Linked DNA regions of Homo sapiens. The gene in region 1 interacts genetically with each later gene. Each region holds a gene or a part of one and is shown on either strand. Other genes may lie near its edges. The genes, in order: ING4 and WEE1.

What was found.
Region 2: changes in ING4 (region 1) and WEE1 are lethal when combined (synthetic lethality), as found in Homo sapiens cells (one large-scale study listed by BioGRID).

Annotation. Positions count from the first base shown.
Region 1 is NC_000012.12:6,656,424-6,660,240, forward strand, and holds part of ING4 (inhibitor of growth protein 4), read right to left. Parts: intron 377-3,817; exon of another isoform or gene 376-376; coding exon 304-375; intron 1-303.
Region 2 is NC_000011.10:9,580,159-9,583,975, reverse strand, and holds part of WEE1 (wee1-like protein kinase), read right to left. Parts: intron 2,445-3,817; coding exon 2,298-2,444; intron 1-2,297. UniProt on the Homo sapiens protein: Acts as a negative regulator of entry into mitosis (G2 to M transition) by protecting the nucleus from cytoplasmically activated cyclin B1-complexed CDK1 before the onset of mitosis by mediating phosphorylation of CDK1 on 'Tyr-15'.

The DNA.
Region 1 (3,817 bases):
CTAGGCCTCCCAAAGTGCTGGGATTACAGGTGTGAGCCAGCCTGGCTAATTATTCTCCAGGAAGACATAAAGAACACAGCATCTTTGAATTCTTGAGGCGTTTTCACAATACTCTATTTGTTATGAAAAAGCTGACACAGAAATGAGGATCATTATCCTGTTTTAAGAATTCCAAGAGCGTAAAAAAGGAGCGAGAGAAGCCACAGTTCTCCAGATCATACCAGATGATACGGTAACATCAAGTAGAAAAATAAATGATTACACACACTCATTAGATACAAAAACTTTTTACTCTATACATACCCTCTGTTCTTTGGTCTAGGTCCCTCATGAGCTGAAAGTTTCTCTGTAATTCAAAGGGAAGGTTTTCAATACCTAGGGAAGAGAGAGAAACAATCACAGGACTGACTATGCATAGGCCTTACAGCTCCTTTTAAAGTGCAGTTCAGGCCGGACATGGTGGCTCACGCCTGCAATCCCAGCACTTTGGGAGGCCAAGGGGGTGGATCACTCAAGGCCAGGAGTTCAAGACCAGCCTGGCCAACATGGCGAGACCTCCATCTCTATTAAAAATATGAAAATTAGCCTAGTGTGACGGTGGGCATCTCTAATCCCAGCTACTTGGGAGGCTGAGGCATGAGAATCACTTGAATCCAGGAGGCAGAGGTTGCAGTGAGCCGTGATTGAGCCACTGCACTCCAGCCTGGGCAATAGAGCAAGTCCCTGTCTCAAAAACAAACAAATGGCCAGGCATGGTGGCTCACACCTGTAATCCCAGCACTTTGGGAGGCCGAGGAGAGCAGATCACGAGGTCAGGAGATTGAGACCATCCTGGCTAACATGGTGAAACCCCGTCTCTACTAAAAATACAAAAAATTAGCCAGGTGCGATGGCGGGCGCCTGTACTCCCAGCTACTCAGGAGGCTGAGGCAGGAGAATGGCATGAACCTGGGAGGCGGAGTTTGCAGTGAGCCGAGATCGCACCACTGCACTCCAGCCTGGGCGACACAGTGAGACTCCATCTCAAACAAACAAACAAACAAACAAAAAATAAAGTGCAGCTCAGTTTTCCTTCCTCTGAACCTCTGGATTTATCTGTGACAGGATGGATCAGTTCTCTCATGACAGGCCATGCTTAACTCTTTCTCTACAAAACCTTTCCATTTCTGCATGGCTATCCCACCCTTTTCGCCTTCAGTGACCTTCCTTTATAAATAAGCTCTTCCCGTCAGGTGTGGTGGCTCAAGCCTGTAATCCCAGCACTTTGGGAGGTTGAGGCGGGTGGATCACGAGGTCAGGAGTTCGAGACCAGCCTGGCCAACATGGTGAAAGCCTGTTTCTACTAAAAATATAAAAATTAGCCAGGTGTGGTGGCACGTACCTGTAATCCCAGCTATTCAGGAGGCTGAGGCAGGAGAATCACTTGAACCTGGGAGGCAGAGGTTGCAGTGAGCCAAGACTGCACTACTGCACTCCAGCCTGGTGACAGAGCGAGACTCTGTCTCCAAAAAAAAAAAAAAAAGCTCTTCCCTTTCTTTTCCTTTTTTGTTTTTTGAGACGGAGTCTGGCTCTGTTGCCCAGGCTGGAGTGCAGTGGCACGATCTTGGCTCACTGCAGCCTCCACCTCCTGGGTTCAAGTGATTCTCCTGCCTCAGCCTCTGGAGTAGCTGGGACCACAGGCGCGCGCCACCACACCCGACTAATTTTTGTATTTTTAGTAGACACAGGGTTTCACCATTTTGGCCAGACTGGTCTTGAACTCCTGGCCTCAGGTGATCCGCCCGCCTTGATCTCCCAAAGTGCTGGGATTACTGGCATGAGCCACTAAGACGGGCCCCTTTCTTTTATTTTCCATCTCTGCCTCCAAGCTCTTTGTCCTCAAATTACAAATAGTCTCCTGGTATCCTCTATTATACACATAACACTTCCAATCTACTTCCATATAGTAGCCAGAATGTCCTTTTTAAAAAATGCAAACCTGGCCAGGCACGGTGGCTCATGCCTGTAATCCCAGCACTTTGGGAGGCCCAGGTGGGCGCATCAGCTGAGCTGAGGAGTTCAAGACCAGCCTGGGCAACATGGTGAAACTCTGTCTCTACCAAAAATACAAAAACTTAGCCAGGCTTGGTGCACATGCCTGTAATCCCAGCTACTTGGGAGGCTGGGGCACAAAAATCCCTTGAACCTGGGAGGTGGACATTTCAGTGAGCCGAGATCACGCCAATGCACTCCAGCCTGGATGACAGAGCAAGACACTGACTCAAAAAAACAAAAACAAAAACAAACACAAAAATAAAAAATGCAAACCTAATCAAGTCACTCTCCCGCTTATAACCTTCTGGTCACTTCCTACTGCTCTGAAGATGTTCTGCGCTTTCTGGCCCTTGCTTACCTCACACCAGCCTGAACTCATGTCAGTCTCCCTTTGTGCTCTGCTTTGCCCATACTGGCCTCCTCGCACTGCCTCAAACTGGCCTGTGCTCCTCCTGCCATTTGGCTTTCCACATGCTGTTCTCTCTAGTTGGAATGCACCGCTCGCTTTTCCTCATCCCATCCACCCCATCCCTCTTGGCCTATTAAATTCCTGTTCGTTCTTCCAAAGTTCAGCTCAAACTCAACTTTCCCAGACTCTGTTAACTGCCCTCGATCTATGTCAAGGTATTCTAGCCACCTTTTTAAAGCACTTATCCAACTGTAATTAAATAAATGTGTAATTAGTTGGCTGGGTGCGGTGGCCCATGCCTGTAATCCAGCACTCTGGAAGGCAGGTGGATCACTCAAGGCCAGGAGTTCAAGACCAGCCTTGGCAGCCTGGCAAAACCCCATCTCTACTAAAAATACAAAAATTAGGGCCAGGCACGGTGGCTCATGCCTGTAATTCTAGCACTTTGGGAGGCCGAGGCGGGTGGCTCACTTGAAGCCAGGAGTTCAAGACCAGCCTGGCCAACATGGTGAAACCTGTAATCCCAGATACTTGGGAGGCTGAGGCACAAGAATTGCTTAAATCCGGGAGGTGGAGGTTGCAGTGAGCTGAGATCGCACCACTGCACTTCAGCCTGGGTGACAGAGTGCGACTCCATCTCAAAAACAAAACAAAACAAAAATTAGGCCAGGCGCGGTGGCTCACACCTGTAATCCCGGCACTTTGGGTGGCCGAGGAGAGCAGATTACGAGGTCAGGAGATTGAGACCATCCTGGCTAACATGGTGAAACCCCGTCTCTACTAAAAATACAAAAAAATTAGCTGGCCGTGGTGGCGGGCGCCTGTAGTCCCAGCTACTCGGGAGGCTGAGGCAGGAGAGTGGCGTGCATCCAGGAGGTGGAGCTTTCAGTGAGCCGAGATCGCTCCACTGCACTCCAGCCTGGGCGACAGAGCGAGACTCTGTCTCAAAAAAAAAAAAAAAAAATAGATGGGCATGGTGGCCTGTGGCTGTAGTTCCAGTTACTCAAGAGACTGAGGCAGGACAATTGCTTGAACCAGGGAGGTAGAGGTTGCAGCCCGGGCAAAAGAGCAAGACTGTTTCAAAAAACAAAAAAATTAAAAAAAATAATGTGTAATTAGTTATTTGGTATCTGTCTCCCCAGGCCGAACATGGCTATCATATTCTCTCCTGTTTCCATAGTGTTTAGAATTATGACTTGCAAAGAGCAGGTACTCAGTAAATACTTGAATAAATGCATGAATATTTGTCACCCCAGTACAAGAGAAATCTCTTGCCAAGACTCCACCTAAAACTTTAAAAATGCCTCTACTTGCTGGGCACAGTGGCTCACGCCTGTAATCCCAGCATTCTGGGAGGCCAAGGCAGGTAGATCG
Region 2 (3,817 bases), on another chromosome or scaffold:
CACTAGGGAGGCTGAGGCAGGAGAATCGCTTGAACCCAGGAGGCAGAGGTTGCAGTGAGCCGAGATCGCACTACTGCACTCCAGCCTGGGCAACAGAGCAAGACCCTGTCTCAAAAGAAAAAAAAAAGTATATATATATATATATATATATATATATATATATATATATATATGTGTGTGTGTGTGTGTGTGTGTGTGTGTGTGTGTGTGTGTGCGCGCGCGTGCACGCACACACACGCACAAATATTTAGTATTAAATTTATGTTACATTTACTGGAGTCATCTATACGTTTTACTTTCTTTATAGGACAACTTATTTTGTGATGGTATTTGTAAATTGGAAGGTTTTTTTTTTTTTTTTTTGAGACAGTCTCGCTCTGTCGCCCAGGCTGGAGTGCAGTGGTGCGATCTCAGCTCACTTCAACTTCCTCCTCCCGGGTTCAAGCAATTCTCCTGCCTCAGCCTCCAGAGTAGCTGGGACTACAGGTGCCTGCCACCACACCCAGCTAATTTTTTGTATTTTAGTAGAGACGAGGTTTCACCGTGTTGTCCAGGCTGGTGGTGAACTCCCAAGCTTAGGCAATCCACCCGCCTCAGCCTCCCAAAGTGCTGGGATTACAGGCGTGAGGCACCACGCCCGGCGAATTTTTTTTTTCTTTTTTTGAGACGGAGTCTCACTTTGTTGCCTAGGATGGAGTGCAATGGTGCAATCTCGGCTCACTGCAACCTCCGCCTCCCGGGTTCAAGCAATTCTTCTGCCTCAGCCTCCCGAGTAACTAGGACTATAGGTGCGCACCACTACACCTGGCTAATTTTTGTAATTTTAGTAGAGACGGGGTTTCATCATATTGGCCAGGCTGGTCTCGAACTCCTGCCTCGTGATCTGCCTGCCTTGGCCTGCCAGAGTGCTGGGATTACAGGCGTCAGCCACTGCACCTGGTCTAAATTTGAAGATTTTTAAACTTCACATCCCTTAATATTTTCAACTTTTATACCTTATAAGGGTCTATTATATTTGTCTAACACTTTATATGAGTACAGCTATTCCTTAAGAATTCACATTTACTGCCTTAAATCCAAATATATTTTTGTCTTTTGAAAATAAAAAACATGCTGGGCACGGTGGCTTACGCCTGTAATCTCAGCACTTTGGGAGGCCATGGTGGGCAGATCACAAGGTCAATAGTTCAAGACCAGCTTAGCCAACATGGTGAAACCCGTCTCTACTAAAAATACAAAAAATTAGCCGGGCATGGTGGTGTATGCCTGTAATCCCAGCTACTCGGGAGGCGGAGGCAGGAGAATCGCTTGAACGTGGGAGGCAGAGGTTACAGAGAGCTGAGACTGTGCCACTGCACTCCAGCCTGGGCAACAGAGCGAGACTCCATCTCAAAAAAAGAAAAAAAGAAAGAAGAAACTTTAGTGACTTGTTAACATACGCATATGAAATTCTAGCATATAACTCATAAAGTTGTACAAAATGACTGAAATTCTCACAAATCAACAGGTTTCCAAAGATTAATAAAACCTCACTAAATTCATCTAGCCTAAGATGCTTAACTTGAATCCATAATCCTTAGTTATAACTTCCAATTTATAGGAAATATAGGAGAAAAAGGAACAAGCTAAATGATACAAGAAGCAACTAGTCAAATCCAGAAAAAGGGATAGCTTGCAAGATAAGTGTATATTATTTTTACAAAGCAGAGGATGGGTTCTGAAAAAGAAAAACTGATATAACCAGATGCAATGCATGATCCTTAAGTAGATACTAATTTGAACAAATCAACTATTAAGGACTTGAGTCAACTGGGGAAATTTTAATATGGTCTGGCCTAGTGGAAGAGTGGGGCTTTAAACACAGATTTTTAGTGCCCTCATTAGTATCCCACCTGTAGTTCCTGTAAGATGCAGCAAAAATTTCTGGCTTTTAATAAAAATGAATTTATCTGGGCATGGTGGCACATGCCTATAGTCCCGGCTACTCGGAAGACTGAGGTGGGATGACTGCTTGAGCACGGGATGGGGAAGTTGCAGTGAGCGGAGATGGTGCCACTGCATTCCGGCCTGGGCCACAGAATGAGACACTGTCTCAAAAAAGTTTATCTCAAATTTTGGGGATTAACAAGGGAAGAGATGAATAGAAATCATAAAACAATATTGGTAAGTGGATCTAAGGCCTTTTAAAACTAACAATGAGAAAACAGAAGATATATATTTTTTCAATGTTGTCATAATGAAGTAATTTATTCTCTATAACCCCAAAGAACACAGGTCAGAAGATCTGCAATACTTACTAGGTTTTATATCCATGTGAACCAAAGACATTGAATGAATATACCTCAAGCCTCGGCCAACTTGCAAAAGGAGATCCTTCAACTCTGCTTCTTTAAAGTAACTCATGATTCTGTAGTTTTCACTTATAGCATCAGCTAAACTTCCACCTAACAAAGATAGAAAATATTAGCATTTTCTTCTTTCTGAAATATTTTCTTTCTTCCATCTTTACCAAATGAGTCTCAACCAACCAATCTCAACCAAGAAAGTGTTATTTTATAGGACCTTCTCCCTTCAACCTGCTTGTGAAATCAAAATTTTATTGTTTTTTCAATAGGTAATACATTTGCATGGGTACAAAATAAAATGTAAAGTCTCTCTCTCAATCATACACCTCAGCAATCCACCTGTTTCTTTCTCAGAGTAAACCAGTATTATCAGGTTGGCTTTTTTTTTGTTTGTTTTTGTTTTTAATTTATAAGAGACAGGGTCTATCTATGTTGCCCAGCTGGAATCCAGTGGCTATTCACAGGCTTGATCCCACTACTTATCAGCATAGGAGTTTTGACTTGTGCTGTTTCCAACTTAGGCCAGTTTACCCCTCTTTAGGCAACCTGGTGGTGCCCCACTCCACAGAGGTCACCATACTGATGCTCAACTTAGATCGGCATAGATCGGCATAGATGCTCAACATAGATCGGCACTACAGCCTAGAATTCCCAAACCCAAATTCAAATTCCCTGCTTCAGACTCCCAAGCAGCTGGGACTACAGGCACTGCCACCACGCCCAGCTCAGGTCTATGTATTCTTTTCAACTTTTTGCATAAATAACAGCATATGTTCATTATCTTAAAGATCACTCTATACCAATATACAAAGACAACCCATTTCTTCTTGTCTTTATAGAATTCCATTGTATAATTGAGTAGAAATGCATTTATTGGCTGGGCACAGTGGCTCACGCCTGTAATCCCAGCACTATGGGAGGCCGAGGCAGGTAGATCACGAGGTCAGGAGTTCGAGACCATGCAGGCCAACATGGCGAAACCCCGTTTCTACTAAAAATACAAAAATTAGCTGGGTGTGGTGGCGTGCACCTGTAATCCCAGCTACTCAGAAGGCAGGAGAATTGCTTGAACCTGGGAGGCGGAGGTTGCAGTGAGCCGATATCGGGCCATTGCACTCCAGCCTGGTGGCAGAGTGAGACTCAGTCCCCCGAAAAAAAAAAAAAAAAAGAAAGAAAGAAAGAAATGCATTTATCAGTCCCTCATTTGATGGACATTTTAAAATTATTTCCAAGCCTTTGCTATTACATACTATGGCCTAATAAATAACCTTGTACATTGGTAATTTCACGTACATTTAGTATATCACCTAGAAGCCAAATTGCTGGGTTAAAGGGTATGCACATTTGTAATATATGGAGATGGTGTGTTTTACACACACACACACACACACACACACACTCTTCTCCACAGAGAAGGCTGTACCAATATATATGCCCATTGTCAATGCATGAGCATACCTGTTTCCCCATAC